Regions from separate parts of the Homo sapiens genome. Here regions 1, 2 and 3 are each linked to region 4. Evidence: fine-mapped expression QTL. A gene starts in region 4. Each other region holds a variant in brackets. All regions are shown on one strand. Distances are from middle to middle. Region 1 has its middle 27 kb from the start of BCAR1. Region 2 overlaps TMEM170A (transmembrane protein 170A). Region 3 overlaps CFDP1 (craniofacial development protein 1). Region 4 holds the start of TMEM170A (transmembrane protein 170A).

The links. PIP is the estimated chance that this variant, and not a neighbour inherited with it, causes the effect.
Region 1: its variant is fine-mapped to the expression of TMEM170A in whole blood (GTEx, PIP 0.96).
Region 2: its variant is fine-mapped to the expression of TMEM170A in whole blood (INTERVAL, PIP above 0.99).
Region 3: its variant is fine-mapped to the expression of TMEM170A in whole blood (INTERVAL, PIP 0.94).

Annotation. Positions count from the first base shown.
Region 1 is chr16:75,274,889-75,282,994 of GRCh38, forward strand. No RefSeq gene overlaps it. Among named protein-coding and RNA genes, the nearest start is that of BCAR1, 27 kb to the left of the region's middle. The variant A/G (reference allele first, on the strand shown) is at 4,472.
Region 2 is chr16:75,440,192-75,448,297 of GRCh38, forward strand. It overlaps TMEM170A (transmembrane protein 170A), which reads right to left. Exons shown (of 3, transcript NM_145254.3): 3 at 2,863-7,497. The coding sequence ends at 7,367. Among named protein-coding and RNA genes, the nearest start is that of CFDP1, 11 kb to the left of the region's middle. The variant T/C (reference allele first, on the strand shown) is at 3,625.
Region 3 is chr16:75,382,848-75,390,953 of GRCh38, forward strand. The region is part of intron 5 of CFDP1 (craniofacial development protein 1); the gene reads right to left. Among named protein-coding and RNA genes, the nearest start is that of CFDP1, 47 kb to the right of the region's middle. The variant C/CT (reference allele first, on the strand shown) is at 4,293.
Region 4 is chr16:75,461,270-75,469,375 of GRCh38, forward strand. It overlaps TMEM170A (transmembrane protein 170A), which reads right to left and starts at 3,420. Exons shown (of 3, transcript NM_145254.3): 1 at 3,199-3,420. The coding sequence starts at 3,331. RefSeq lists enhancers at 1,851-1,900, 3,090-3,590 and a silencer at 2,767-3,396.

The DNA of each region.
Region 1 (8,106 bases), 190 kb before region 4:
CTCTTCTGCCCTTGATACGGGCCCCCAGAGTCTCCTCTGATGCACCCCTTCCTTCCTTCCTTCCTTCAAGGTCTGCTCAAGGTTGCCTTCTCAGGATGCCTTCCCTGATTTACTTTTGGTCATAATGGAAATATTATCTTGTCATAGGTTGCTGTGAAGATTAAATGAGATAATCTAGGTAAAACATTTAGCACAGGGCTGGGTACATGGAAACCAACAAATGGGAGGAATTTTTATTTGTGGTATTTACCACTTCCTGATATTATATATTTACTTGTGTATTCAATAGCTGTCTATCTGCTCCTGTGAACTATAAACTCCGTGAGGGCTGAAATCATCTTGACAAATAGTAGGGGCTCAATGAATAACTTTCATTTTTATTTTTTACTTTTAGAGACAGGGTTTCACTCTTTCACTCAGGCTGGAATGCAGTGGTGTAGTTGTAGTTCACTGCAGCCTCGAGTTCCTGGCCTCAAGCAATCCTCCCGCCTTAGCCTCCCAAAGTGCTAGGATTATAGGCCTGAGCCAATGCACCTGGCCTCAAAAGCGGTAAAATAATCAATCATTCATTGTACAGGATTCCCACACCTGATTTAACCATTCTCTGCATGTGGGTGTTGCGGTTCTTTCCATTTTGGACCAAATAATGTACAAATAATGCTGAGATGAGTATACTTGTAAGCGGATCTTTCTCTGCAATCTGATTACTGTATTTTCTGATAATAAATTCCTGGACATTGAATTACTGGGTCAAAAGTACGAAATTTTTTAAAAGTAGCAATCCATTTAATAACATGTCTTTTGTATTCATAAGTAACAAAAAGGTCCTAAATTCTTCAAAATGTAAAACTAGAATACAAAGCAGGTGGATCACTTGAGGTCAGGAGTTAGAGACCAGCCTGTGCAACATGATAAAATCCCGTCTCTACAAAAAAATACCAAAAAAATTAGCTGGGTGTCAGGGCTGGGCGCGGTGGCTCACGCCTGTAATCCTAGCACTTTGGGAGGCCGAGGCGGGCAGATCACCTGAGGTCGGGAGTTTGAGATCAGCCTGACCAACATGGAGAAACCCTGTCTCTACTAAAAAAATACAAAATTAGCAGGGCGTGGTGGTGAATGCTTGTAATCCCAGCTACTCGGTAGGTTGATGCAGGAGAATTGCTTGAACCCGGGAAGCAGAGGTCGCGGTGAGCCAAGATTGCACTATTGCACTCCAGCCTGGGCAACAAGAGCGAAACTCCATCTCAAAAATAAAATAAATAAATGGATAAAATTAGCTGGGTGTCATGGTGCGTGCCTATATTCCCAGCTACTTTGGGGGCGGAGGCAGGAGGATCTCTTGAGCCTGACAGGTCGAGGCTACAGTGAGCTAAGATTGCACCACTGCACTCCAGCCTGGGTGACAAAGTGAGACCCTGTTTCAAACAAACAAAAAGCCTATAATACAATTCAGAGACATAGGTGGCAACTTCAATTTATTCTAATAGCAGGTTCTCTTTTTTTTGGGAAGTTAAAACACCTCTCTTGGAGAATCTTTCTTTCTTTTTTTTTTTTCTTGGGGGGCGGGGTGTGGGGACTGAGTTTCGCTCTTGTTGCCCAGGCTGGAGTGCAATGGTGTGATCTTGGCTCACCACAACCTCCGCCTCCCGGGTTCAAGCGATTCTCCTGCCTCAGCCTCCTGAGTAGCTGGGATTACAGGCATGCACCACCATGCTCGGCTAATTTTGTATTTTTAGTAGAGACAGGGTTTCTCCACATTGGTCAGGCTGGTCTCAAACTCCTGACCTCAGGTGATCCGCCCACCTCAGCCTCCCAAAGTGCTGGGATTACAGGCGTGAGCCACCACACCAGAGTCTCGCTCTGTTGCCCAGGCTGGAGTGCAGTGGTACGATCTCGGGTCACTGCAACCTTCGCCTCCCAGGTTCAAGCGATTCTCGTGCCTCAGCCTCCCGAGTAGCTGGGATTACAGGTGTGTGTCACCACACCTGGCTAATTTTTGTTTTTGGTAGAGACGGGGTTTCGTCCTGTTGCTCAGGCTAGTCTTGAACTCCAGGGCTCAAGTGATCCACCCGCCTCAGCATCTCAGAGTGCTGGTATTACAGGCATGAGCCACACCGTGCCTGGCCAAACCCCACTTCTTTTTTTTGAGACGGAGTTTTGCTCTGTCGCCCAGGCTGGAGTGCAGTGGCTCGATCTTGGCTCACCACAACCTCCGCCTCTCTGGTTTAAGTGATTCTCCTGCTTCAGCCTCTCGAGTAGCTGGGATTACAGGCACACCAAGCCACCACGCCTGGCGAATTTTTGTATTTTTAGTAGAGACGGGGTTTCACCATGTTGGTCAGGCTGGTCTCGAACTCTTGACCTTGTGATCCTCCTGCCTCAGCCTCCCAAAGTGTTGGGATTACAGGTGTGAGCCACCCAGCCTGGAAAACCCCCCTTTTTAATGGAACAGAACTCACTTACCCTGAGAGGTGAGAGGATAGAGGGATTCAGAAAGCACATTCACAGCAACTCACAGATGAATGTACCACAAGGCTGGGCTTGAGTGAATCTGGGTCCCTGGGGCAGCATATCTCTCCCCTGTCCAGATGCTGCCTTCAGAGACAGAGCCCTGGGCTGATATGGCAGAAGGTTCTGGAATTCAGGGACAATCTAGTTCCAGTCTGTTCCTTGGATGGCCATTCTCCTCCTAGTTCAGGTAGGTCTCTCCCAAAGCACCAGGCTCTCTGCTCAGACAGGCAGGGCTTCCTCGATGAGTCCTCTCCTCTCAGAGGGTTCACATAAGCAGAGAGGGGCACACCTGCCCTGTCCAAGTGAGAGAACTTTCTGGGAGGTAGCTGGGCATTCCATTTTGTGGCCTTGAAAATACGTGCCCTGCCCAACACAACAAACTCACTCATAGAAATAATCTAGAAAGAATCAGGGATGTGGATGGCCGGGCGGGGTGGCTCACGCCTGTAATCCCAGCACTTTGGGAGGCCAAGGCGGGCGGATCACGAGGTCAGGAGATCGAGACCATCCTGGCTAACATGGTGAAAACCCGTCTCCACTAAAAATACAAAAAATTAGCTGGGCGTGGTGGCGGGCACCTGTAGTCCCAGCTAGTCGGGAGGCTGAGGCAGGAGAATGGCGTGAACCCGGGAGGCGGAGCTTGCAGTGAGCAGAGATCGCGCCACTGCACTCCAGCCTGGGCGACAGAGCAAGACTTCATCTCAAAAAAAAGAGAATCAGGAATGTGGAAAATTATCAAAGGGCTAAAGCAGTGCACCACAGCATCATTCATAATCACAACAGTGGGTGACCTGAATGGCCAATGGTGGAAGATCGGTAAAATAAACCATGGCACAACCACAAATGGCATATGCTCTGCAGCCCTTAAAAACCGTGTGCTCGGCCAGGTGCAGTGGCTCACACCTGTAATTCTAGCACTTTGGGAGGGTGGATCACTTAAGGTCAGGAGTTCAAGACCAGCCTGGCCAACATGGCGAAACTCCGTCTCTACTAAAAATACAAAAATTAGCCAGGCGTGGTGGTGAATGCCTGTAATCCCAGCTACTCAGGAGGCTGAGGTGGGAGAATCGCTTGAACCTGGGAGGCAGAGGTTGCGGTGAGCCAAGATCATGCCACTGCACTCCAGCCTGGGCGACAGAGCAAGACCCTCCCTCAAAATAATAATAATAATAATGTACTCAAAGAATGTTGAGAATATTTAATAGGGAAATGCTCAGCGCGTAGCATTTGGTTAAAACTGCACACACCAGGGCAGGCTGATAGGACTGTGATGATGGAAATGTTCTGCACCTGCCTGGTCCCTTATTCCATAGACAATAACCATAGGCCACTAATGAACACATGAGGTCTTGGACTAGCACAACTGAAGAACTGAATTTTACATTTTAACAAATTTAACATTTAAAGAGCTGCAGGTGATAGTGACTTCTGTATTGAATTGCACAGGTACACTAAATCCCAAGTATGTTAAGAAAAGGTGTGGGTGGCTGGGCGTGGTGGCTCATGCCTGTAATCCTAGCACTTTGGGAGGCCAAGGCAGGCAGATCGCTTGAGACCAGAAGTTCAAGACAAGCCTGGGCAACATGGCAAAATCCCGTTTCTACAAAAAAAAAATACAAAAACTAGCCGGGCGTGGTGGTGCACACCTGTAGTCCCAGCTACTCAGGAAGGTGAGGCAGGAGAGTCGCTTGAGCCAAGGTCGAGGATGCAGTGAGCTATGATTGCAGCACTGCACTGCAGCCCAGGTGACAGACCCTGTCTCAAAAAACAAAAACAAAAACAAAAAAAGGTATGAAAAACACATTAAACACATAAAAAATGGCTGAAATAATATTCCAAAGTGTATACAGTAGTTTTCTCTGTTAGGAAGGTTATAGGAGATTTAAATTTTCTTTCATTTTTCTGCTGTCAAATTCTCAATGAATAGATTTCTTCTCCATCAGAACAGCAGAGGAATATC[A/G]GGAGGAGAGAGAAGGAGGGAAGAGGAGAGCCAGTAGAACTCAGGTTGGCAGGAAGAGCCCAGCGGGGCTGCCCTGGCTGAGCTGGCAGGAGCGGGAGCCGCGAGAATCCGCCTAGCTCAGGGCTTGTTTTGACAGGAGTGTGGTGCGTGGGGGCTGGGTCTCCAAGCGGCAGGGCAACCTAGCTGACACACTGCAAACTCGGCTTCGCTGGTGTGAGTGTGTGTGTGCACATGGGTCCTGCCATCTGTTGCCCACCTGGCAGGAAAGTGTTGTCTCTTCAGCTGTATTTGTTGGGTCTTCGGTGGATTTTGTTGTCTGAATTTCTCACTTGCTTCTCAGGCCTGACTTCAGCTGCTTCTCCAAGTTACCAACAACTTTTTTTTTTTATAAAAACATTTGAGACAGAGTCTCGCTGTGTTGCCCAGGTTGGAGTGCAGTGGGGCAATATTGGCTCGCTGCAACCTCCACCTCCTAGCTTAAGTGATCTTCCCACCTCAGCCTCCCAAGCAGCTAGGACTACAGGTGTGTGCCACCATGCCTGGCTAATTTTTTTTTTTTCTTTAGACAGGATTTCACTCCTGTCACCCAGGCTGGAGTGCAGTGGTGTGCTCTTGGCTCACTACAACTTCTGCCTCCCGGGCTCAAGCCATCCTTCTGCCTCAGCCTTCTGAGCAGCTGGGACTACAAGCACACACCACCACGCCTGGCTAATTTTTGTATTTTTAGTAGAGATGGAGTTTCACCATACTGGCCAGGCTGGTCTTGAACTCCTGACCTCAGATGATCCACTGGTCTCCCAAAGTGCTGGAATTACAGGCATGAGCCACTGCACCCGACCTAATTTTTGTATTTTTTTGTAGAGACAGGGTCTCACTATGTTGCTCAGGCTGGTCTCAAACTCCTAGACTCAAGTGCTCAGCCCACTTTGGTCTCCCAAAATGCTGGGATTACAGGCGTGAACCACTGTGCCCGGGCGCCGACCCCCACAACTTTTAGGAGACTTCAGCCAAGCTCTTTGAAAGTAGGAGGAAGTTCCTGCAGGTGAGTCTCGGCAGACATCGGGGATGGAACCTAGGCTGACTTATTCATTGTGGCTTTGCTGGTGCAGCAGTTTAGGAATTTCAGTTATTTGAAGTGGCAAGGATAAAGAAAGATGTAATTTTCCTAAATATATAGCTGGAGGCCTTTTAATTATTTTACTGCTAAGGAGGTCATAAGCACTGGTTCTCAAGCTTTGGAGTGCCGAAGAATCACCTGGCTGCTTGTTAGAAGTAGAGATTCCTAGTGTTAAGCCCCAGGGATAATTTAATCAACCCCCTCATTTTATAGACAGGCCAGGGGAGGCAGAGGGCCAAGCCATGTGCCCAAGGTCACCAGCTGGTCAGCAGCGCCGGGATTAGGATCTGGGCATCTGATGTGGGTGTCTTTCACTAATTGCCTTGCCTCTCAATTCGCTTGTGTCAGTTGTCTGCCTTAAAGGAAGAGTTAGACAAAAGTGGGCTGTGAGGTTTTTTTCCCACCACCAACCAATTCTCCATCACCAACTGGATGTCCGACAATTCAATTCTGACACTACCCAGAATTAGCATACACCCCACAGGTTAAGGACTTGGTCCCACAAGACTGCCCACACTTCTGACACCAGCTACAAATGGAGTGTCCAGGCTACTCATACTTCTGCCCAGCTGACTATAAATTTGGAGGTTCCCATGAACCCTTCTTCCTATTGGGTTTTTTGTTTTGTTTGAGACAGGGTCTTGCTCTATTGCCCAGGCTAGAGTGCAGTGGTACAATCTTGGCTCACTGCAACCTCCACCTCCTGGGCTCAAGCAATCCTCCCACCTCAGCCTCCTAAGTAGCTGGGACCAGACAGCTACCATGCTTAGCTAATTTTTAAGTTTTTTTGTAGAGACAGGGTCTCACTATATTGCCCAGACTGGTCTTGAACGCCTGGACTCAAGCTGATCCTCCTGCGTTGGCCTCCCAAAGTGCTGGGATTACAGACATGGGCCACTGTGCCCACACTCCTATCAAGTTTGATAATTTACTAGAATAACTCACAGACTCAGGAAAGTGCCGTACTCACCATTGCAGTTTATTATACAGGATGAGAATGAACAGCCAGATGAAGTATATAGGTGAGGTCTGGAAGGGTCCTGAGTGCAGTAGCCTCTGTCCCCATGGACTTGGGGGTGCAAGGGGGTTCGGGGTTTTTGTGAGGTTTCATTACATAGGTATGATAGATTAAATCACTAGTCTGTGGTGATTGAGCTCCATCTCTGGCCCCTCTCCCCACCCTGGAGGCTGGGAGGGGAGGGCTGAAATCATGTGGTTGGTTTTCTGGCACCCAGTCCCCATCCTGAAGCTATCGAGGGCTCCCCTATGATAAGCCATGGTCCCTCATTAGCACACAAGACAGTAAATTCCAAGGGTTTTAGGAGCTCTGTGCCAGAAACACAAAGCCAAATAATTAATTAATAGTTAATTAACTGAGACAGGATCTTGCTTTTGCACACCCAGGCTGGAGTGCAATGGCATGATCCCAGCTCACTCCAGCCTTGACCTGCCAGCCGATTCCCCTGCCTCAGCTGCCCGAGTAGCTGGAACCACAGGCACGCGACACTACGCCCGGCCAATTTTTTGATTTTTTAGAGATGGGATCTTGGTATGTTGCCCAGGCTGGTCTTGAACTCCTGGGCTAGAATGATCCTCCTGCCTCAGGCTCCCAAAGTGCTGGGATTACAGGGGTGAGTCATATTTTTTTATTATAACACATGGGATATTTGCAATTTTTTTTGGAAAATACTACTGCATCACAAAGACAAAATAAGCCTTTATAATGATAATGCTTATTCTGGTTGTCTCTAGCTCAGTTGTCTATAGGCGGCTCAAGGGCACACATCGGACCCTGTTGGTACAGGAGGGCTGGGATGTGGGGCGAATGGTGACTGGGAGATGGGCAGCTTTTCCTTCTCATGACTCAGGACCCTGAACCTCAAATTCAAGGATCCAATAATGGAACTCAATGGCAGAGTGGTAACAAAATTGTGAGCCTGCTAGAGACAACCTGACAGGGTGTCTGATACAGAGAGGGTTCAGCCTGCTGCAGACAGTGCCCCTCGGCACCCAATGAGCTTAAAAAATGTGTTCCATTTGTCAGTTGGGGTGCCTCGAACTCTGGCAGGCCCAGGTTATCATGCAAATGTGTTCAGTGGAAGAAGGCATGAAATCATTCTCAGAGATGAATGGGGCTGCTCAGCGGACCTGGGAGAGGAGGGCTCTGCCCAGTAAGACTCCTGCACATCCTCAGGAGATCTGGCCACACCTCCCACTGAGAGAAGGCACTCACAGGAGGTTCAAGGCACAGCCTGGGCCTAAGGGCCCAGGGACAACTCAGGACACCGGGCAGTTTGAAGACAGGCAGCCCCATAACTTCTGCCAGAAAATCCAGACATTGAGTGTAATTCGTTTTGGTGTCTTTACATTTCAAGCTCATTTATCCAGGTCAGGAACCATTTAGTTTGCATCTAACAAGTCGAGGCCTGTGCAGCATCCTTCTAACATATGGCCTGTTCATCCTGCCTCTGAGCATCTGTCACAGCCATGTTTTGGGAGGAGGCTGACTCGGCCAGTT
Region 2 (8,106 bases), 21 kb before region 4:
AGTGCCATCACGGCTCACTGCAGCCTCAACCTCCCTGGTCTCAGGCAATCGTCCCACCTCAGCCTCCTGAGTAGCTGGGACTACAGGGGCGCACCATCATGCCTAGCTAATTATTATTATCATTATTATTATTTTTTTTTTGAGACTGAGTCTTGCTGTTGTTGCCCAGGCTGGAGTGCAATGGCATGATCTTGGCTCACCACAACCTCCACCTCCCAGGTTCAAGCGATTCTCCTGCCTCAGCCTCCTGAGTAGCTGGGATTACAGGTATGCACCACCACACCCGGCTAATGTTTGTATTATTAGTAGAGACAGGGTTTCACCATGTTGGCCAGGCTAGTCTCGATCTCCTGACCTTGTGATCCGCCCGCCTCAGCCTCCCAAAGTGCTGGGATTACAGGTGTGAGCCACCGCGCCTGGCCACGCCTAGCTAACTTTTATACCTTTTGTAAAGACGGGGTTTCACCATGTTGGTCCAGTTGGTCCACCACCAGGCTGGTCCAGTCCTTTGTGACTTGAACATATTTCCTCATATTTTGTGAGGTTTCCACTTTTTTTGAAAGACAGCATCCTGCTCTATTGCCCAGGCTGGAGTGCAGTGGTGCATAGCCCCACTGTAGCCTCCAACTCCTGGGTTCAAGCAATCCTCCCACCTCAGCCTCCTGAGTAACTAGAACTTCAGGTGCACACAACCACACCCAGCTAACTTTTAAAAATACACATATTTTGTAAAGATAGGGTCTTGCTGTGTTACCCAGGCTGATCTCAAACTCATGACCTAAACCAGTCCTCCCACCCGGGCCTCCCAAATTGCTGGGATTACAGGCATGAGCCACCGTGTCTGGCTATTCATACTTTCTTGAAGGTGTCCTTCAAAGTCGTTTTTAATTTTGATGAAGTCCAATTTATCTATTTTTTGTTTATTTTCCCTTGTGCTTTTGGAATTGTATCTAAGAAAGCTTTACCTAAGCCAAGATCATAAAATTTACGCTTATTTTTTTCTAAGAGTTGTAGTTCTTGCGTTTAGGTTTATGATCCATTTAAGCACATTTTTTTTTTTTTTTTGAGATGGAGTTTCGCTCTTGTTGCCCAGGCTGGAGCGCAATAGCGTGATCTCGGCTCACTGCAACCTCTGCTTCCTGGGTTCAAGCGATTCTCCTGCCTCAGCCTCCCAAGTAGCTGGGATTACAGGCATACACCACCACGTGTGGCTAATTTTGTATTTTTAGTATAGACAGGGTTTCTCCATGTTGGTCAGGCTGATCTGGAACTCCTGACCTCAGGTGATCTGCCCGCCTCGGGCTCCCGAAGTGCTGGGATTACAGGCATGAGCCACTGCACCCGGCCTAAGCACACTTTTCTTATGGGAGAGTAATAGAAAAATAGATGTAAAATTTGAACCCAGTATTTGGAAGTTGACCATTCTTGGCGTCATTTACCTTGGACAGCATAAATGGTGTCCTACAGCCACAAATCAGGATGTACCCTTTTGCCCTATCACTGGGGGTGAGTCTGGGGAACAGGAGCCACTGCGTTCTCTGGCAGACACTCCCCAGCACCCATTTCTCCTAGCACTCCATGTGATTGTTCAGATTTACAACTAGAGTTCCTGACCGCTTTAAGGGTAATCAGAGTGGGAATTACTTTCTAATAGTTGAGATGGAAAAAAAATTGGTGGTGAGCAGGCCAAATCCAGCTTAAAATCATGTATTGTAATGACTTAAAAGTGTTTTACGGCAAGGCGCACAATTACAGGTGGCTCGCGGCTGTAATTCCAGCACTTTGGGAAGCCAAGGTGGGCGGACCATTTGAGGTCAGGAGTTCGAGACCATCCTGGCCAACACCGTGAAACCTCGTCTCTACTAAAAATACAAAAATTAGCCAGGTTTGGGGGCGCACATCTGTAATCCCAGCTACTTGGGAGGCTGAGGCAGGAGAATCACTTGAACTTGGGAGGTGAAGATTGCAGTGAGCCAAGATCGCGCCACTATACTCCAGCCTGAGCAACAGAGCGAGACTGTGTCTCTAAATAAATAAATAAATAATAAAAGTGTTTTACGCAAGTTTAAATTAGTTGCTAACACTTAAAAATGGAGAGATTTCAAACAGTAACCTAGATTTCCAGCTTCTCTTGAAAATAAGTATCTGGCAAGATTGGGTTAATCATCGAATAAAGCAGAAACAGGCTGGAGCCAAGCAATAGCTGACTCCTTCGGACAGGGCTCTCCACTTGGCCACAGCACAAATCCCTCCAACTCCCTAAAGATTCCTGGTTCACTGTTCTGTTTTCTCGGTAATAATTTAGGGTGTCCTCCCTGCCGATCTCAGCACCTTTACTCCCAGATACATATACAGTCTTGGGGTCTTCTGTCTGAACTGTGTACGTATCTTTCCGGGGTGCTAGAAACATTCTGTCTCTTGATCTATTAGTCACATTAAGTATATATATATATATATATATATATATGTAAAATTCATTAAGCTATACATTTTAAGATTTGTACACTTTACTGCATGTTAAACCTCAACTTTAGAAAATTAGAAGGAATGAATGGGCAATCTCCTGCCAGACATTCTCTGTATGTGTCTGCAATGGCTGGAACTGCAGCAATCTTGTGACCATGAGGTAAACTACCCAACTTAGTCCCATTTGTTAAAAATGGCAGAACAGTGAGATTTATGATGTCACCAAGGGTATTAAATTAACCAAACACGACGAAGCTTCTCTTCATGTGGACTTACTATTAAAATAATACATTTTCACACACTGTATCAATACTCACCTATTCCTGCACAGAATCAAACAAAAGTTTCTTGATGGGAATATATGGCCCAGCAAGTAGAGTTAATAAGAATTTCAAGTTCACATGTTAAGTACGGTTTAATCACAACTTTGAACAAGAATTTTATCATAAATTAGTAAGAAGTAGAACATAAAAAAAGTTACACATGCTAGATATTAAGTTATTTAAAAAATGAAAACTGAAGTCAATTTTATTACAAAAGATTAAACTCATTAGCCACCAAAAAGAAATATAATTCCAACTCAGAATTGAAAGTAATTTTTTATTGATAAACATTTACACTAGAATTAGAAATGTCAGTAGAAAAATAAAATTTAAATAATTTTCTATTGTACAAAGATTTGATCATTTTGACTGTAGCAGTTAGTGAAATAACATAATATAAAAAGTTAAGCTGATCTGAGTCACAACCAGCCTTATAGAGTGCACAAAAAAGAAATGCAAGTACACGACATTTCTGCATATGGTCTGCTAATGGCACCGATGCTTCACATTCCAGGAAATGGTTACTTAGGGAAGGTTGATATGTGCTGCAGCATAATAGGAACTTAATTCAAACCAGAGCAACCAGAAAGGATACTGGAGGCAAAAGCCAAAATACAATTTAAAATCTTAAAAAAAATAAGGAACGGTTTAAAGGTAATTAATGAACTTTTCCTCACCTAGTGTAAACATTTCATAAGAAGTAATATTTTGTGGTCACAAAAAAAGCACAGATACCTCTTTTAGAATATTCATGATGCTCTTGTGTATGAACTTAAGTTTTCATGAAATGCTTTCACCTCAAAACCCCGTATTCAAGAATCAAGAAGGCCAAGCA[T/C]GATGGCTCATGTCTATAGTCCCATCACGTTGGGAGGCCGAGGCGGGTGGATCACTTGAAGTCAGGAGTTTGAGACCAGCCTGTCCAACATAATCAAACCCTGTCTCTACTAAAAATACAAAAATTAGCTGGGCCTTGTGGCGGGTGCCAGTAATCCTAGCTACTCAGCGGCCAAGGCAGGACAATCACTTGAACCCAGGAAACGGAGGCTGCAGTGAGCTGAGACCATGCCACTGCACTCCAGCCTTGGAGACAGAGCAAGACTCCATTTCAAAAAAAAAAGAAAAAAAAATCAAGAAATCAGCTTTTATGGTCAGGAGGCTGCCTCCCTCCCTCTCTTGCATTTCTTTTTTTTTAAAAAACAAAGCAGAGGCCGGGTGTGGTGGCTCATGCCTGTAATCCCAGCACTTTGGGAGGTGGAGGCGGGTCAGGAGATTGAGACCATCCTGGCTAACACGGTGAAACCCCGTCTCTACTAAAAATACAAAAAATTAGCTGGGCATGGTGGTGGACGTCCGTAGTCCCAGCTACTCGGGAGGCTGAGGCAGGAGAATGGCGTGAACCCGGGAGGCAGAGCTTGCAGTGAGCCGAGATCATGCCACTGCACTCCAGCCTGGGCGACAGAGCAAGACTCCGTCTCAAAACAAAAAAACCAAAAAACCAAAGCACAGCTGGGGGAGGATATTTCTAAGAAATCAGTTTTTGGCAAAAATTCTCAAAACTATATAAGGTAAAATGTTCAACACAATTGCCAATATTCTTCCATCTGAGTGACCACCCCCAAATAATTCTATATTTGAGACATAAAAAAGAAAATCAAAGCTATTCCTTATGATTCAAATAGTCTTTCCCTGAAAACATTTCAAGCTACACCGCTCAAGCTATTTAAAATCTATATATATATATAGATTTATTCACTGGAGAATACTTCACCTACTGGGATGGATGAAACACTCAGTAATTTGAAGATACCTTTTATACGTTTAGTTTTTTAAAAGAGTAGATAACCAAAATATATCAAACAAGAAACAGAAACAAATACACCTTTCAAAATGCCCTAATTTTAAGTCTTAGCTCCAGTGAAAAATATCTAACATTTTAATCATGTATCAGTACTTCAAAAGTTACTGTTTAAGAGGAGGGGCCCACTAACTACTGGTCTATATGTTTAGTGTATGAAATTACATCCAAAGAATGCTTTAGGCAAGAACTCCTTCAAAAGACATTTTTCAGTAAGAGGCATCCTTCAGTAGAGATGATGGCAATCATTTCCCATAAGAAAAGTTACCAATTCCCCAGATTTCTTAAACTGAAGGGATACTTTTGAAAATCACAGCTCTTTAAACAAAAAACTAGAATTTTTACAATTTGCCTGTGAGAAAGATTTGAGCTTCTTGTTAGGGAATTTGTAAGAATATTTGGCTGCATTACAACTCTACTTATAAGTTTCTGCCCGTGTATATGTCACTATAGTTTTGATAAGTTAATTACCAAAATTAGTAATATTATTTTAAGACAGGGTCTTGCCCTGTGGCCTAAGCTGGAGTTCAGTGGCGTGGTCTCGGCTCACAGCAGCCTGAACCTCCCAGGCACAAGTGATCCTCCCACTTTAGCCTCTTGGGTAGCTGAGGCCACGCCCAGCTAATTTTTTTTTATTTTGTAGTAGAGACAAGGTCTCACTATGTTGCCCAGGCCAGTCTTGAACTCTTGGGCTCAAGCAATCCTCCCACATCGACCTCCCAAAGTGCTGGGATTATAGGTGTGAGCCACTGCGCCCAGCCATAAGTGGTCTAATTAGTCAAAAGAATATGTCCAGTTTTTGTGATCTCTTTGTAATTCTTTTCTATGAGTTTCCCTGGCAAATTGGTCCTCCTGACTTTTTTCTTTTTTTTTTTTTTCCAAATTGGGCAGACTCCAGAATCACAGTAGATTCAGAGACTCTCCTCCTGGCTATTTTTAATCAGAAGCCAGAGTGTGTATTGCTTTAAATGGAATAGATACGTTCATGTGTATATGACCTCATGGGCTGTTAAGCCTTAATCTCACAATGAAAACTTTCCTTTAAAGATGTCAGATTTATGGCCAGGCGCGGTGGCTCACGCCTGTAATCCCAGCACTTTGGGAGGCCGAGGCGGGTGGATCACAAGGTCAGGAGTTCAAGACCAGCCTGGGCAAGATGGTGAAACCTATCTCTACTAAAAATACAAAAATTAGCCGGGCACGGTGGCAGGTGCCTGTAATCCCAGCTACTCAGGAAACTGAGGCAGGAGAATCGCTTGAACCCGGGTGGCAGAGGTTGGAGTGAGCTGAGATTGCACCACTGCACTCCAGCCTGGGCAACACAGTGAGGCTCCGTCTCATTTAAAAGAAAAAAAAAAAAAAAAGTCAGATTTAATCACCAGAAACTATTTTGCAGATAACCACCACCACTACCACCACACTGATTGTATTCCATACAAAACAGTTTAGGTGGAAAGGATCACATTAAATACTTAATTTCTGCGATTCTTTCCCTCTCAAAGAGTCACAGTTTTCAGGCCTTTTAATGAAAAAGAAAGTTAGGCAGTAGAATAAAAATTTAAATAGCTAAAATTAAGTTTTAAAAAAACTCTTGATATTTAAATCTCTTTAAAGATATAAATTCTTTTGAATAAAAATGTAAAGGGGAGAGTGGGTACATATCTGAACATTAAACTTTAGGCACTTTCTGGGAGTTGATACCCAATACTGTAAAAGTGGGCTGAAGAGTTACCACTAGGTAAACACATTAAGCTAAAAAATCAATAACCACTAACTCTAGTTTCAGATGCACTTCTATAGTTTCTCAAGGGTCATTAGTATACCAAAGTCACTAAGAAAAACTATGACAGAATGCCTAAAGTATCTTATGTGTGCCTCAATGTCCAAACAAATCTGGCTTAAAATTTCCAACTCAAGCCATTTAATAGGGTATGTATGTTTCCAATTAAATGAAATAAAATTAAGAGAATTAAAAGTGATAGGGAAAGGTGGTACAGAAAATCTAAAAAGTCTAAATTAGCTAGCTTATTTTGATAAAACATACAAAATAACAAATTCACATCTCTTAAAATATCTTAATCAGAAGTCAAGACAGTTGTCCAGAAAATGTCACATTATTCATTGTTATCTACTTTTTATTTATAAACAGTGGAACCAAAGCCACTACTTGAGTTATACTTAAATTTTTTTTCCTGCTTTATTTCACCAAATTTGTTTTCAAAACTATACTCAACCAAAACCTATTTGGCATTTATTGTCACTAAGATGTAGCAAAGAAAAGAGTTTGCCAAATTTTAATCAAGATTAGATAAGATTTTAATACAACATACTCTGCTCATTTGAAATAAACCAGTATCTTCCACGGTTTCTTCAAAATATGCGACATCTCACAGAATACTGTAAATTTCAGTGCAAAGGATGCCACCCCAGAGACACTGTTGACTTGGCTTGGGTAAAGGTACACATGAAAACTGCTTAAATCAAATATCTACAAAAAAGAAAGCCAAAAGACTTGTTTTGGTTGAGAACAATAGGAGTCCACATAAGTCTTCAATTCTAGGAGCTTCAAAATGAAGAAAAGGCTGAGATGTGTTGTCCTTCATGTTCCTGTTCATCCAAGTTGCTTCCCTTTGAAGAACTAAGAAAACACTACACTCCATAATGTATTCTTTTGGAGGATTCCATAAAGTTTAAGTTCAACATCTCAGCATAAGGATGTATGCTATAGAGTAGCTAAAATCCGTAAAAAGGAGACCACCAAGACGCAAAATGTCTGTCCAGTGCCCAGTGTGAGGGCTTCAAATGGTATCATTTCCTTCCCTGCTGCTCGGTAAACTCCAGCAATAGCTGCACCTGATTTAAAATGCAAGAATGTTAAACAAAAACAAAAAACGAAGGTTAACAAACTCACGAAAATACAACATTTAAAATACTACTGCGAGTAGAATGTTCCAGATTTTATACTGAAATTTAAATCTTACAGAAATGTTAGGTTTTCCCTATTCTTTCTGTGGACTACTCTACACTTTGAGTATTCATTGCATGGCTTGCAAGATCACTTTTAGATGCTGACTCCTTAAAACCCAGAGTCTCCTAGATTTATTGAATAAAATAATCTGGAAGAAATAATCAAAATCACAAAGATAGCAATTCCCACATGACCAGATTATGAACTCAAAAATATCTGTATTCCCCTACCAGTTACCCCATGCCTAGCCTTCAACAGGGACCTAATACATTTTTGGTAACAAATGAAAAAGGATCTTTTGAGTTAGACTAAGCAAGAAATGTTTCAGGCCACAGGGAATCCCCACTCCACCTTCTATCACACTCATAGTTCCCTTCAAGAAATGGACGGAGGAGGGACTAGAGGGGTGAAAAGGGAAGACAGGAGGACTCTAAGCCATAAAGTTGTTATTCATTCACAGGGCATGAGAGGAGAGATACTCAGGGATTCCTTTG
Region 3 (8,106 bases), 78 kb before region 4:
TTCCACTTCCTACAGGCACATCATCTCACAAGCAGCTAGGACTAAAAGATCTCAGTTTAAAGCAGAAGCCAATGCAAAGCATGAGTTTTTCCTACACATTCTCAAATTAGCAACTACTGAAATTGTACTACATTTCAAATTCAAGGAAATGCTAATAATCAAAAGGTTATGTTTTATGGTCTTAAGCATCCAGAATTACTAGGTCTAAAGATGAATGTTTGATTAGAATCTTCCATATCCTCAATGATGGGAAAATATTGGCCTAGCTTTAAATTATTTCAGCTTAAATTTATCATAGGTTTGCTTGGGTAACAGGGTTGTGGCAGAATCCAAAATTCAAGTAACTGAGTATAGTTAAGTGCTGGACTTCAGACCAGCCTGATTTTCAATCCTTGACCAAAATAATTAGAAGACAGCTGCTCAGCCTCTCCCAAAAGAAAAATTCCTCAATCCAAATTAAAGTATTTATCTAATATGAATCTTTCTGTACAGTCAGAACCCTTCAGGAAATAGCAGCAAGTTGCCTTTTTAAGAACTTTAATCAGAACATAAAAATCGCTTAGTGCTATGATTAGGATGAATGACATTCTTCCCTGATGTTAAAACATTTTGAGATAGTACTTTCCAACACAAAGAACCTAAGAGTGAAGCAGCACACAGCATTTGCAAAGGATCAATAAGATACAGCCCCAGCGAGGCGCTGTGGCTCTCACCTGTAATCCCAGCACTTTGGGAGGCCGAGGTGGGCGGATCATGAGGTCAAGTGATCGAGACCATCCTTGCCAATATGGTGAAACCCTGCCTCTACTAAAAATACAAAAATTAGCCGGGCATGGTGGTGGGCGCCTTTAGTCCCAGCTACTCGGGAAGCTGAGGCAGGAGAATTGCTTGGACCTGGGAGGTGGAGGTTGCAGTAAGCCGAGATCGTGCCACTGCACTCTAGCCTGGCAAAAGAGCGAGACTCCGTCTTAAAAAAAAAAAAAAAAAAAAGATACAGCCCCAAATTTGGCTCACAATTTATCTCAGTGTTTATAAAATCTAGATTTTTTTACCTGATCTCTTAAATGACTGAAGATTAATTAACTTTGATAATTTGATACAATATGGAAACTACCTACAGGTAATATGCAAACCTTAATTTATTCATTCCGTAACATTTGACAAATACACAAAATAATATTAGTTTAATAAAAAGTCTGTTTTGGTAACAGTTTTCAAAAGAGGAAAAATTTTGGCTGGGCGCAGTGGCTCACATCTGTAATCCTAGCACTTTGTGAGGCTGAGGTGGGCAGATCACCTGAGGTCAGGAGAGCAGCCTGGCCAACAAGGCGAAACCCCATCTCTACTAAAAATACAAAAATTAGCCAGGCATGGTGGCACATGCCTGTAATCCCAGCTACTTGGGAGGCTAAGGCAGGAGAATTCCTTGAACCCAGGAGGTGGAGGTTGCAGTGAGCCGAGCGAGATAGCACCACTGCACTCTAGCCTGGGCGACAGAGTGAGACTCCATCTCAAAAAAAAGAGAAAGAAAAGAGGAAAAATTTTAAACCACCACACAAACCAGCAGGTTATAAAGATACAGTTACTACAATGATCGTGGAGAAATGCAGATAAATACATATTGGTAAATGTATGGAAACTGGTCTTCTCACATAATACTGGCATGACTTCAAATTGCTTCTGCCTATTTAGCAGCAGCTATTAGAATTTAAGATGCACATACCCAATGACCCAGCAATCCCACTTCTAAAATTCTGTCCTTCAGAAATAACAGTATGAGAACATAAAAAACATATGTGTAAGGATTATCACAGATTATTAATAACTGTAAAATTTGGAAAACTGTAAATGTTCATCAATAAGAGAAGGTGCACTCAAATTATGGAAGTCACAAAATGGAATACCAGGCAGGCATAAAAAAAATACAGATGTTTATATTGAACCTGGAGAGATGCCCAAGATAGACTGTTAAGTAAAAATACAAGTTGCAAGAAGAAACTAAAACTATATATATATATATATATATATATATATATATATATATATATATATTGCAGACCAGTACAGACAGGGTAAGTCCACTTTTGTTTTAAGTATCTACGAATGCAATACATATATATGTATACAATATATATGTATATATTGTTTTCCCTGATCATTGATTTTAACTTATTCTTAATTTATTTTTAAATAAACCTTGATAGGTATTGCAGGTACAGAGTAAATAGATTAGAAATTGAATAAGGAAAATAATTTTTAAAAGATTTTCCCATGAATACTTGGAATATTTTGAATCTATTAAAGGCAATTTCATTCACATTCTTGATTCAAAGATATTATTCCAGGCCAAGGTAGTAACTGACGTAAGTATGAATGGAGAATCTTGTGACTAATATTAATATATATGAATACAATATATTATCATAGCACAGGGAAGGATCTGCACAAAACTGATCATCAGTTAACAGCTATCAGCTTCTAGGGATGACAATTAACAATTGGAAAGGCAGAAAGGAACTTTCACTGCCTTCTCTCCGAAAAAAATTTAAGTGGTGGGACTACAGGTCATTTTTACTTTCTTATTTGTAATTTAAAACAACAACAACAACAGCAACAACAAAGTTTTTGTATCCCAAGGAAAAAAATGAAAGAAGAAAAATCATTTCTCTTTCTAAGCACAATAGTAGAGTTGAAAAAAAAAATTCTAATAAAAGAAAAAAGTAGAAACTGCATAGTACATAGAAATATCATACCAAGAGACGAATCTAATAAGGCAAAGAAAAATGTACAAGACTCTTTTACCCAATCTTAAGAATGCTGCTTAATGCTTTCTGGGATCTTGCCAAAGACGAGCTATCTTTTCAGGTGGAATTCTGCCCTCTAGTGTACAGTAAAAGAAGTTAAAGACCTATGAAGCAATAATAAATTACTGTTTTAAAGTTAACCAAAATATATTCACTTCATTCCTAGAGTATCATAATCATCTTCTTAAATGAAGGTCTTCGTTTCCTTGCTCCCAAATCAATTTATATTATCATACTAAGTAAACTGTATGACTACCATAACTTCACATACCTATTCCATTCTTCCCTACACATCCAAGAAGCACCTAAAGCATTTAACTTGACTCATTTTTCACACCAGGACAATTTGGCACAACCAAGGGTATAGGAATACGGCAAAATAAAGTTTTAAAAGTCTGTGATCCTAGCAAACCACCATGGCACATGGATTCCTATGTAACAAACCTGCATGTTCTGCACATGTATCCCGGAACTTAAAGTAAAATTAAAAAAAAAAAGTTTGTGATCCTGATAGACATCTGGCTCTTAAAATCATACATGTTTGAAACTTGTTGGCACTATAATTTGAGGCTAAGAGCAAAGGAAAAAGGCTGCTATGTGTAAATAAAGTTCATCTCTTCATAGAATTTTCTAAGAACACTAGAATTTATTTAACTCCAGGCAACCTTGAAAATCACTATAGATAATTCCTAGGTTCAGAGTATTTGTTGTAGGTATTCAATCCGAACTGACAGAGGTTACATCATCCTGGTGACCACAAATGAAAAAAGTTTTTGCTTTGAAAACTTTTTGGCCGGGCACAGTGGCTCACGCCTGTAATCCCAGCACTTTGGGAGGCCCAGGCAGGTGGATTGCTTGAGGTCAGGAGTTTGAGACCAGCCTGGTCAACATGGTGAAACCCTGTCTCTACTAAAAATACAAAAATTAGCCGGGCGTGGTGGCAGGCTCCTGTAATTCCAGCTACTTGGGAGGCTGAGGCAGGAGCATCACTTGAACCTGGGAGGCGAAGGCTGCAGTGAGCCGAGATCCCGACACTGCACTCCAGCCTGGGCAACAGAGTGAGACTCCGTCTCAAAAAAAAAGAGAAACCTTCTCTCTGTTTAGAGTCTCATTTAGATGCTCAGATTGGCAAGGACTTTATTTCATGACCCGAATTGTCAGATATCCTCTTCCCTCCCAAAAGGATATCACTAGACTCTCCATTCATACTTATCTCAGTTACTAGCTTAGCCTGGAATAATAGCTTTGAATCAACAATGTGAATGAAATTGCCTTTAATAGATTGAAAATACTCCAAATATTCAAGGGAAAATCTTTTAAAAACTATTTTCCTTATTCAATTTCTAATCTATTTACTCTGTACCTGCAATACCTATAAAGGCTTATTTTAAAACAAATTAAGAATAAGTTAAAAACAAATGAAGCACGGTATTAGCATCCACTGAAGAACATGAAGGTGAAAGTCAGGTACAGGGTATTCTTTTCTTT[C/CT]TTTTTTTTTTTTTTTTTGAGACGGAGTCTCGCTCTTGTTGCCCAGGCTGGAGTGCAGTGGCGCAATCTCGGCTCACTGCAAGCTCCGCCTCCCGGGCTCACGCCATTCTCGTGCCTCAGCCTCCGCAGTACCTGGGACTACAGGCGCCCACCACCACGCCCGGAGAATTTTTTGTTTTTTTAGTGGAGACGGGGGTTTCACCGTGTTAGCCAGGATGGTCTCGATCTCCTGACCTCGTGATCCACCCGCCTCGGCCTCCCAAAGTGCTGGGATTACAGGCGTGAGCCACTGCGCCCGGCCAGGGTATTCTTGCTTCTACACAAACCATGTCATTCTGGAGCTGATAAGTAAGACAACACCAGTACCACCAGAGCTGCCAAAATCAATCATTTCCATTGTCACCACTAGTTCCTGAAACATCCTATTAAAAGCTATCTCTAGCTAGTCCTATCCTGGAACAAATGGCCACCAGAAGAAATGCACTTGACACAAGCTGGGCAATGATACTCCTACCTGGCTCTCCATCAACATATAAGTTGTCCACAATGTAGGATTCATACCTCAGTAGGAAATGATTACCCTCTGGAAACAGTAATAGCCATTATTCCCCACATCACATCTTGTCCACAGCTTCACTGTTGCTGCTGACAGGTATCAATGTACAAACATACCTGGAACTTATTTTTTAAAATGTGCTAGACCTTCACTTTCTTGAGACAGGAATGAAACAAAAGTATAGAAAATGGTTATATTAATGAGGAAAAGCTTACAAAGGAAAAATGGGGAAACAGCCCTCTCACTTTCTTCAAAAATAACAAAATAGCTTTCAAAGAGTCCCACATCAGTTATGAAATTGAGGAGAGACTCTTTTAACAAAAAAACATCTATCAGGAGAATAAGAGCGAGCAGTGGCAATGGCAAAGTGGCTGAGAGCCCAGGCTTTGGTCTCAAATAGATTTGGGCTGGAATCCGAGTTCGACCAATCATCAACTATGTAACTTCAACAAGTTAAGGACGCCTCTCTGAACCTCAGTGTCCTGATCTGTGAAATGGGCACAAAGTTAGTGCCTACTCTTGGAATGTTTATGTGGGTTAAGTGAAATAATACATGTAAAACATTTAGCATTGTGCCTTAAATGTGGTGAAGCAGCCAATAAATAGACATTATTTATTCTTTATAAAAGGGTAAAGAATATTTAACCTGTAGTCTGAGAAGATAGTATGTTTGGTATTTAATCTAGAGAACAAATTGTTTCCAAAATGAAATTAACATGGTCATCAAAGGGAAACATGTTACCCTAGAGTGGGAAAAGCAGTTGCCTACAGGAACCATGCAGGTAATATAAATGAGTAAAGCCACTGAGTAGGGACCACAAAAGGGCAAACCCCATCTACTCTGTGCCACCCCAGTGTTACCATAGATGAAGAGGGAAGGTAGTGGCAGAAATTTTCATTTCTCAAGAAAAGCCAGTAATCCAGATTTTTATGTCAACTTTCTAGAGTTTTAAATATTGGCCAAATGAGGAGACTGGGAGAGATCACACCATTAACTGCTCAGACAGGAAGACTCTGCTGAACAAACCAAAGATTGCTGGTTACTGACTACATACACTGAATTCTGGCAAACTACAATGGTCAGCATTACTGTCTTCTCAGTCCTTAGTCTGAGTCTTTTATCTTCAGGATGGTACTGTGAGGGATTCTGTGTCTTCTATCTTTGGGGAAAACACTGCTACACTGACATCACCTATGATGTTGTTTGATACTCAACATTAAGGCCTTTTTTTTTTTTTTCCACTCCATAGATCAAGAAAACAAGGCTAAAACTACATGGGAAAATGATGTCTTTCCCTCTTAAGTTATATTGCTTTAGGTCATTCTCAATCTATAAAGAGGCAGCTAAACAGTAGGCCCTTAATTAAACAAGTCAATGCGTAAGGGTAGGATTACAAATTTTAATGACACTAATGGTGGCCCGCTGTTGGAATAAATAGTAAATGTTGGCTTGAAAATAGGTAGCAAATGTGGGGTTGAAGCCTGGCCAGCCAGATACCAGCAAATGCTGAGAAAACTGGATGCAAGTAGCTAACAGTACTGGTAGTAAGGACTGGGGAGTGAGGGAAGAGGCGGATCAAGAGCATGGAATGACAAGACCATGAGAATTTAGACACATTAAGCTTTGTACTTTACTACCAAATGTAGGAGAGTAATTTTTGTAGTTTGATTCCTGCCTCTAATTAAAGTAGGGCTTATTCCATTCCCAAAACATAAACTTTGGCTTTTTATAGCCTAAGCAGTGTGCTATTTTAAACACATGGAGGAAATGCATTTTTAGTTACAAACATTTGCTCCTCTAAATCTGTTCTTATTTCTGAATCTGTGCTTATCTTATCAAAAGATGTGGGACAGGATGTTTTACTCTCCTGCTCTGGTTTTCCTGTATTGCTTAAATCTGTTTAGAGAGAGGAAAATAAACAAATAAAGTGTTTCTGCAAGACAATTTCTATAAACTGAAGCAGCTCCCAAAATGAAAAAAGTCTGTGGGAAAAAAACTTGACTGTGTTAATTTTCTTTTAAAATATTAGATTATTCCTATAGATCCTTCCCTTGAAAAGACTTTCTATACTCTGCAAATGGAGTCTGCTGACAGATACTAATATTTGCACGGATAAAATGTGCCCACTCAGATACCCCAGATCAGCTGAATTCCTCTTGGACCCGTCTTTTCCCAAGCACAATTGTAACTGTAAAGCTTTTTGAGATGCATTTCATAAAAATGAGCATACCAACCTTGAAAGTCATTCTGGATCTACTCAGAAATCCAAGGTTCACAGTATCATAATTAAACACGTACATTTTCACGTACAACTCTAAGGACTTTTACTCAGGCACTTGGCAGACATATCCTTGTAATGTGTTATGTTCCATCAGGGCTTTCAAAGAAACTGATTTTGGTCAAATTTCACTTTACCCTGTTTATAAGGGAGTCAGCATTCTTTACTGAAAAATATTTCACTTGTATAGCTCCCAAGGTAGCTCCTGGTTGGCCCCTAGATTCCCTCTATACCCTTTCCCACATGGCTCTCTGCTCTAGGAGCTGCTCTGTGAGGACAGCCTGATGAAGACTCTCCTTAAACCAAACTTTAGTCAGACTCCACTGAGCCCTCTTCTCAACTAAGGCTTGAAATTGGCCCCTGCCCTTGCTGGCCTGCACAGCGCAGTTTTGGAAAGAATTCTGTGCTAAGTCAGTGTAGAGAGAATCCCCTACCCTTGATATCTGATCACACTACCCTGCCTTGAGCAAGAATCACCCTCTCCTTGATGTCTCCTCTTAGTAATTTTCTATCCACTGACCACCTGCCTCCCGATTCTGCTAAAAATCCCCAGCTGTCTTTGCTGTATTCGGAGTTGAGCACTCTCTCTCTCCCCAGAGATAGTCTTGAGACCCACTGCAATAGTTTTGGATAAAGTGTTCTCACAGTTTTAACAAGTGTCAGAATATTCTTTAATAAGCCTCAGAGGGCAATGGAGTACCCTAAGAGGCTGCAGAGAGAGAAGAAACAGATCTGGGTATTTATTCCCTTGGCTTCCCTCTGGGGGAAGTCCATCACTTAACAGAAGGTCTCAGCTCCTGTCAGGAGGTCCATTCCACCTAACCCTTTCTTCCCCTGCCATTAACTGCTCCCACTCTTGCCCTTTCAGGCCTAGGGGTAGTAATAGAGTCTCATTATTACCAGCCCCAGGGAGGCCACACCAATATTTGTATCCCTGTGGTTTTCCACCACTTTGTGAGAAAGTATCATATTTGAGAAT
Region 4 (8,106 bases):
TCTTGAACTCCTGACCTTAGATGATCCGCCCGCTTCGGCCTCCCAAAGTGCTGGGATTACAGGCGTGAGCCACGGCAACCGGCCAATTTAGTCATTTAGATGTCTACCTAACCCTCCGTAGGTAAATGGCTAAACTGCAAATACAGGTAATAAAGAAAAAATCAATTCAGTACTTCCTGGTATACATAAATATGTCAGAATACTTCAGAACAATGATTCTGCCATAATGAGTTGGCATACACTGCAAGTAACCTTTTCTGTGGGGCCAAAATATCAATACAACAGATTCAGGACAATGAATGCAACTCCTGTTAAGCAGATTTTGGTGTCTCAAATAGGATATAACTTCATGTATTTATTACACCCATTATTCCTGCCAAAGATGAGACACAGCAGGGAGGTTATGTGTTTACTACCAAATTCTGATCTACTTGGGGTCAAGGGCTATGCCTCATACCTGCTCATAACACCAGACCAGAGTTGGCACTTGGCCAAATGTATACTTACTGAATAAACGATCTCTGGTAATCGACATCACAAGTTACATACCCATAACAGTAATCATAAACTCAAGAACATACTGAAGTTTAATATTTTCAGAAAAAAGTTCTGAAAGTAAAACAATTCACATGGCTACAGATTACCTACTGTGATGTATTAAACCTATCCCAAATCCACTTATCTCAATCTTTTCTTAATGAAAGGGAACTAAAAGCCAGAGACTCAACAGACTATTCAGTTCCAACTTATGACCCTACATATGACGTTTAATTAACAGAGGATGCAGGAACCCTTACAGTAGAGAGTTCTGATAGACATCATCTTCACCAAATGATCAAACTTGGTAGTAAAGAGAGGATGCAGATACCCTTACAGTAGAGTTTTCATAGACACCATCTTCACCAAATGATCAAACTTAGTATTATCAATGAAGATACAAATTGACATTCAATGTCTCTTTTTTTGTTGAGACAAAGCCTCGCTCTGTCACCCAGGCTAAAGTGCAGTGGCGCAATCTTGGCTCACTGCAACCTCTGCCTCCTGGGTTCAAGAGATTCTCGTGCCTCAGCCTCCCCAGTAGCTGGGATTACAGGCACACACCACTACGCCTGACTTTTTAGTAGAGACAAGGTTTTGCCATGTTGGCCAGGCTGGTCTTGAACTCCTGACTTCAGGTGATACGCCTGCCTCAGCCTCCCAAAGTGCTGGGATTACAGGTGTGAGCCACTGAGCCAGGCTGACATTCAGTGTCTCTTGATGTGATGTACTGGTGAGTGGACGTCACCTAGGTAGGTAGCGTTCTGACCAAAAATGTTTAATCTAAATCTAATCATGAAGACCATCTAATGAACCTAGATTGTAAAACAGTCTATACAACAATTCACATGGACTCTTCCAAAATGTCCATCTTAAAAAATTCAAACAAGGAAGTAACTGTTTTAGCTAAATGAAACTAAAGAGACGGACAACTTAATGCAATGTGTGAACCTTAGATCATGGAATATATATATTTTTTTAAGGAAAAAAATCTATGTGGACAATTGGGGAAATGTAAACAAGGCCCACACATTAGGTAACATTATTCTATGATGTTCAGTTTCTTGGATGTGATATGGTTTCATGGATAGAAAATGGTTTTTAGAAGATACATGTTAAGATTATCAGGCATCAAGCAAGTGTTATGACTTCTGCAACTTCCTATTGAATGACTCGAGTTGAAATGGGACATGTGACCTACATCTAAGTGTGATACGTATGTAATACATGTGGTTATATATATAGAGAGAGAGAAAGAGAGCAGAGAGAGAGAAAGAGAAACAGAAAGCCAAAGAATCAAAATATTACTGAGTCTAAGTAAAGGGTACATGGGTATTTGTTATACTGTTCTCTCAACTGTTTGGCAGGCTTGACATTTTTCAGGAAAGGGGAAAATTAAGGAAACAAAGATTAATCTGGTCCCAGTAGTGCCTCCAGATTGCACGAACATTTCATGTATCACACAGGGTCACCAGAATACCATCAATTTTTTGATATCACTGTCAAAAGTGATCCTAGCACCTTCTGAAATAACGTGAGCTGCCAGATTCTCATTTCAGGAATGACCACAAGCGAACATCTGCATCTGACCCCAACCTGCCTGATGACCTTACCCGCTACTTCACAATCCCGTCCGGGAAAATCCCTGGGCACATAACACTGCAAGTCCCAGGTGTCCGCTGAACGGCGCCTGGCAGTCGCTGCCCAGGGGATGAGAAATCACAGGTGCCTTGTTTGGAACTAGAGTCTGGAATCTCGTCCTCCTTCCCTCTGCTCTGGTCCCTCATTGTTTATGAAGACCTCAGTCCCCTCTGCTGGGAGCCCCACCTCCCCTTCCAGGGCCACGGGCTCTAGTCTTCTTGCCTTTCAAGGACCACACAAATAACTGTGCCTCCCCTCAAAGCTTTTCTCCTCCTTCCCAAGTGAAGTCCTCTCTCCTCCCTCCAGCTTTCAGGGCACGGAGCGCTCTTCCTGGCATTAGAATTCTGAGCAACCCTCCTAGCAGGCCCAGCTCAAGCCGCAGCGGGGAGGAAGAGTTCAAAGGAAGCTGTGCCAAAGATCTCGAAGGCTTAGTGGGAGACCCAGCAACAGGTGGCACCAGGTCTGGGAAAGATTCCTAGAAAGCGGAGCGGGTCTCGGAGGGGGAGGATTTAGCCCCAGGCGCCCGCGATCAGCGAACGAGCGCCTGCGCGGAGGGGCCGGGCTGCAGCCCCGGGGCAAGGGGAGCGCGAGCTCTGACTCCTCAGCGCGGCCGGGCCGCTCCGAGACCCCTCGAAGGAGGCCGGGCGCCGTGGGGCAACCCAGGCAGGGCGGGGACCACAGCCTCCCGGGCTCGTGGGGTGCAGCTCTGAACCTGAGGCGCTCGGAAGCTCAAGGCCAAGACCCGCTCGGGTGGCGGCCGAGCGCCCTCCAGCCCCGGGCCCACCTGCGGCCGCTCTCTGCATCTCACGCCCAGCGGGACTCCGGGGCTCCGCCTCAGGGACCGCCGAAGAAGTGATGGGGAAAGGGGCTCCGGGCGAGCAGCACGGCCCCCCTCCCGGAGGACAGCGCCCACGCCGCCAGCAGGCTGCGCACCCGGGACCCCGCCCAGACTCGGGGCGCCCACAGCACGGCAGCGGCGACGGCGGGGCGCGCAGTGCGCAGGCGCGGGGCGGGCCGTACCTGGGAAGGAGCAGAGGGAAGTAGAGTTGGGGCACAGGGTCCCGTTGCCCACCCGCGGCACAACCTTCAGGCTCAGGATCTGCTGCAGGAGCCCGGCCGACCCGCCGCTGCCGCCGCTCCCCTCGCGCTCCATCCCGTCGCCATTCACCACAGAGAAATGAGGGACGAGCGCCCGAAGTGCGGTAGCGGCCGGCGCCGACTCACCCTCGCCGCCTCAGCGTCACCTCCAGCCGGGGTCCTCTTCCCCCAATCCCAACGGCGCTGCCAAGTGACCGTTGCCTCCTCCAATCACAAGGCGCCGCAGCGCTCGGGCGCAGGGCCAGGGTTGTTCCCGCCCCCAACGTTGCGCAGGGCTCGCAGAGACACAGCCCCACGGACGCGCCCCCTCCTGGACGGCGCGCTCTGGGACCGCGCGCTCTGCTCTGCCCTTCTCTGCAGCGCCCCCTGTGAGAAAGTAGGGAATTGCATGCGCCCCAACAGAGCCGCGCTATGGAGTTACCAGGGATCTGGAAAAATACAGTGATGGAACGGATATGTAAAGTTCTAGTTATGACTGGACTCCAGCATTTATGAAACCTTCATGAACAGAACAAGAACGTTCTCTATTTAAAGCTGATAGTAGAAAGAGCCCATGCAAAGTCTGGTGTGGGACCAGAATGGGAGGGAGGCTATGTAGCCTCTATAGAGCTCGACTTAGTTTTAAATAAAATAAAATGTACAGAGATTCGGTTCAGAGCAATAAAATTAGATCACACTTTTTTCTTTTTTTTGAGACGGAGTCTCCCTCTGTGACCCAGGCTGGAGTGCGGCCGCGCGATCTCTGCTCACTGCAAGCTCTGCCTCCCGGGTTCACACCATTCTCCTGCCTCAGCCTCCCGAGTAGCTGGGACTACAGGCGCCCGCCACCACGCCCGGCTAATTTTTTGTATTTTTAGTAGAGGCGGGATTTCATCGTGTTAGCCAGGATGGTCTCGATTTCCTGTCCTCGTGGATCACACATTTTTGTCTCACCTCCCTTCAGAAAGCCTGTTAAAATGAAGGCAGAGAAATCGTAAAAAGGAATAAGCTAATGTTCAGTTTGTTTGCACTGCTGTAACAAAGTACCTGAGAGTGGGCAATTTATTAAGAACAGAAATTTATTTTCTCACAGTTCTGGAAGCTGGGAGGTCCAAGATCAAGGTCGCAGCAGGTTCCATGTCTAAGGACGGCCCGTTCCTCACTGATAGCACCGCCCGGGCGTCCTCACACGGTAACAAAGGGAGCCCACTCTCCAAATCCCTTTTATAAGGGTCCTAATCCCATAACGGGGGCTCCACTCTTCTGACTTAATCGTCTCCTAAAGGCCCCTCCTCTCAGTACTATCGCATTCCCACGAAGTTTCAGGACATGAATTTGGGGGAACACGTTCAGACCATAGCAGCCATTAACAATAGTGTTCTGGAAGGGAAGTTACCAAGGATAAGTAATGTCCACAAGGTTCCAGGTGATGAAGAGGCTTGTGACGAATAATAATGTTTTTGTTTGGTTGGTTGGTTTGTTTTGAGACAGAGTCTCACTTTGTTGCCCAGGCTGGAGTGCAGTGGCGAAATCTCAGCTCACCGCAACCTCCGCCTCCCTGGTTCAAGCGATTCTCCTGCCTCAGCCTCCCCAGTAGCTGGGATTCCAGGCGCGTGCCACCAGGCCCAGCTAATTTTTGTATTTTGAGTAGAGATAGGGTTTTGCCATGTTATCCATGTTGGTCTCGTTCCTGACCTCAAGCGATCCACCTGCCTTGGCCTCCCAAAGTGCTGGGATTACAGGCGTGAGCCACTGCACCTGACTGGTAAATTTTTTTTTTTTTTTTTTTTTTTTTTTTTTTTTTTTGAGACGCAGTCTTTTTCTGTCGTCCAGGCTGGAGTGGAGTGGAGTGTAGTGGCGCAATCTCGGCTCACTGCAACCTTCGCCTCCCGGGTTCAAGCAATTCTCCTGCCTCAGCCTCCCAAGTAGCTGGGATTATAGCTCCGTGCCACCATGCCCAGGTAATTTTTGTATTTTTAGCAGAGATGGAATTTCACCATATTGGTCAGGTTTGTCTCAAACTCCTGACGTCAGGTGATCCATCTACCTTGGCCTCCCAAAGTGCTGGGATTACAGGCGTGAGCCACCGTGCCCAGCCTGAAAACTTCTTTAAAAATCATTGAATTGTACAGTTAAAATAAATGAATTTTATGCTACATAAATCATACCTTTTAAAATCTTTTTAAAAAGTGACCAATTCACCGATCTGCCAAGCAAGGTGGCTCATGCCTGTAAACCCAACACTTTTGGGAGGCCAAGGCTGCAGGATTGCTTGAGCCCAGGAGTTTGAGACCAGCCTGGGCAACATAGGTAAACCTTGTCTCTACTAAAAATTCAAAAATTAGTCGGGTGTAGTGGCACACACCTATAGTCCCAGCTAACTCCAGAGGCTGAGGTGGGAGGATCCCTTGAGCCCCAGAGGTCAAGGCTGCAGTGAGCTATCATTGCTCCATTGTACTCCAGCCTGGGCAACAGAAGAAGGCCCTGTCTCAAAAAACAAACACACAAATAAACAAACAAAAAACCCCACAAGAATTTAAAGATGGCTCAGGAATTTAGTAAATAATTAAAGCTGAAACTTTTTGTCATATAAGTTGAAATGGAAAAACCTGTGATTCACAGGTATTTTCTGGCGCAGCTAGACTTCTTGTTGGCATTTCAGATTCTGTAGGATTTTTTTGTGACAGTGGCTGACAGCCTTTTTCCATAATTGTGCTATATCCAATGCTGGCCCTGGAAATAAATGGTGTTGCTCCACCAAATTAATCATAATAAAGAAAGGAAAAGAAAAATAAATAGAACAAGAAGAAAAAGATAGAAATAAGAAATTCTACCAAGCACAGTGGCTCACGCCTGAAATCCCAACACTTTGGGAGGCCAAGGTGGGTGGATCACCAGGTCAGGAGTTGGAGGCCAACCTGGCCAACATGGTGAAGACTGTCTCTACTAAAAATACAAAAATTAGCCGAGCGTGGTGGCGGGTGCCTGTAATCCCAGCTACTCAAGAGGCTGAGGCGGGGGAATCACTTGAACCTGGGAGGAAGAGGTTGCAGTGAGCCGAGATCTTGCCATTGCACTTCAGCCTGGGCAACAAGGGCAAAACTCCATCTCAAAAAAAAAGAAAGAAATAAAAAAGAAATTCCTAAAACAGAGGGAATCTATAGGTCACCTACAAAGAAATGAGAATCAAATGGTTCAGTAGCCAAATGAAGAAGAAGGCTGGATGACAATGTACCAACACCTTCAGTATTTGCAGAGAAAATGATTTTTTTTAAAGCTTTTTTGTTTTTAAATTTTTTTAAGAGACAGGGTCTCACTATGTTGCCCAGGCTGGTCTCAAACTTGTGGGCTCAAGCAATCCTCCCGCCTTGGCCTCCCAAAGTTCTGGGATTACAGATGTAAGCCACTGCACCCGGTCATTAACCTATTTTACACTCAAAAGTATTGTGTGCAAAATACATATTTTCCATTTTTGTTTGTTTGTTTGTTTGTTTGAGACAGAATCTTGCTCAGTCACCCAGGCTGGAGATCAATGGCACGATCTCAGTTCATTGCAACCTCCGCCTCCCAGGTTCAAGCAATTCTCCTGCCTCAGCCTCCTGAGTAGCTGGGATTACAGGTGCCCACCACCATGCTCTGCTAATTTTTGTATTTTTAGTAGAGACAGGGTTTTGCCATCTTGGCCAGGCTGGTCTCGAACCCCTGACTTCGTGATCCACCCACCTCGACCTCCCAAAGTGCTGGGATTACAGGCATAAGCCACCACACCCAACCCATATTTTCCTCTTAATTCAAGAACATTAGCAAGACTGTTTATTAGAATTTTCTCCTGAGCCGGGCGCGGTGGCTCACACCTGTAATTCTGGCACTTTGGGAGGCTGAAGCAGGCAAATTGTCTGAGCTCAGGAGTTCCAGACCAACCTGAGCAACATGGTGAAACCCCATCTCTACTAAAATAGAAAAAATTAACTGGGAATGGTGGTGTGTGACTGTAGTCCCAGTTACTCAGGAGGCTGAGGTAAGAGCATTGCTTGAACCCGGGAGCCACTGCACTCCAGCGTGGGCAACAAAGCCAGACTCCATCTCAAAAAGAAAAAAGGCCGGGCGTGGTGGCTCACACCTGTAATCCCAGCACTTTGGGAGGCAGAGACGGGCGGATCACGAGGTCAGGAGATCGAGACCATCCCTGGCTAACACGGTGAAACCCCGTCTCTACTGAAAATACAAAAAAATTAGCCGGGCGTGGTGGCAGGTGCCTGTAGTCTCAACTACTCGGGAGGCTGAGGCAGGAGAATGGTGTGAACCCAGGAGGTGGAGCTTGCAGTGAGCTGAGATTGCGCCACTGCACTCAATCCTGGGCGACAGAGCGAGACTCCGTCTCAAAAAAAAAAAAAAAAAAAAAAAGAAACAGAAGTCTCTCTTGAAACCTCCGTTTAGGAAGCTTCCTCCTGCCAGTTCCCTACCACTACAATTGGCGTTTTGCATCAACCAAGAAACCTATCTAAAATAAAAATAGGAAGTATAAAAAGGGTCAGGAAATACTGACCTTTTAACCATGCTGTCTTTTTGGTACATTTCCCAGACTAGCAGAGTCTATTAGAAGTGGAAGAAACCGCTGGGCGTGGTGGCTCATGCCTGTAATCCCAGCACTTTGGGAGGCTGCGGCGGGTGGATCACGAGGTCAGGAGTTTGAGACCAACCTGACCAACATGGTGAAACCCCGTCTTTACTAAAAATACAAAAATTAGCCGGGCATGGTGGCATGTGCCTGTAATCCCAGCTACTCAGGAGGCTGAGGCAGGAGAATTGCTTGAACCTGGGAGGTGGAGGTTGCGGTGAGCCGAGATCGCA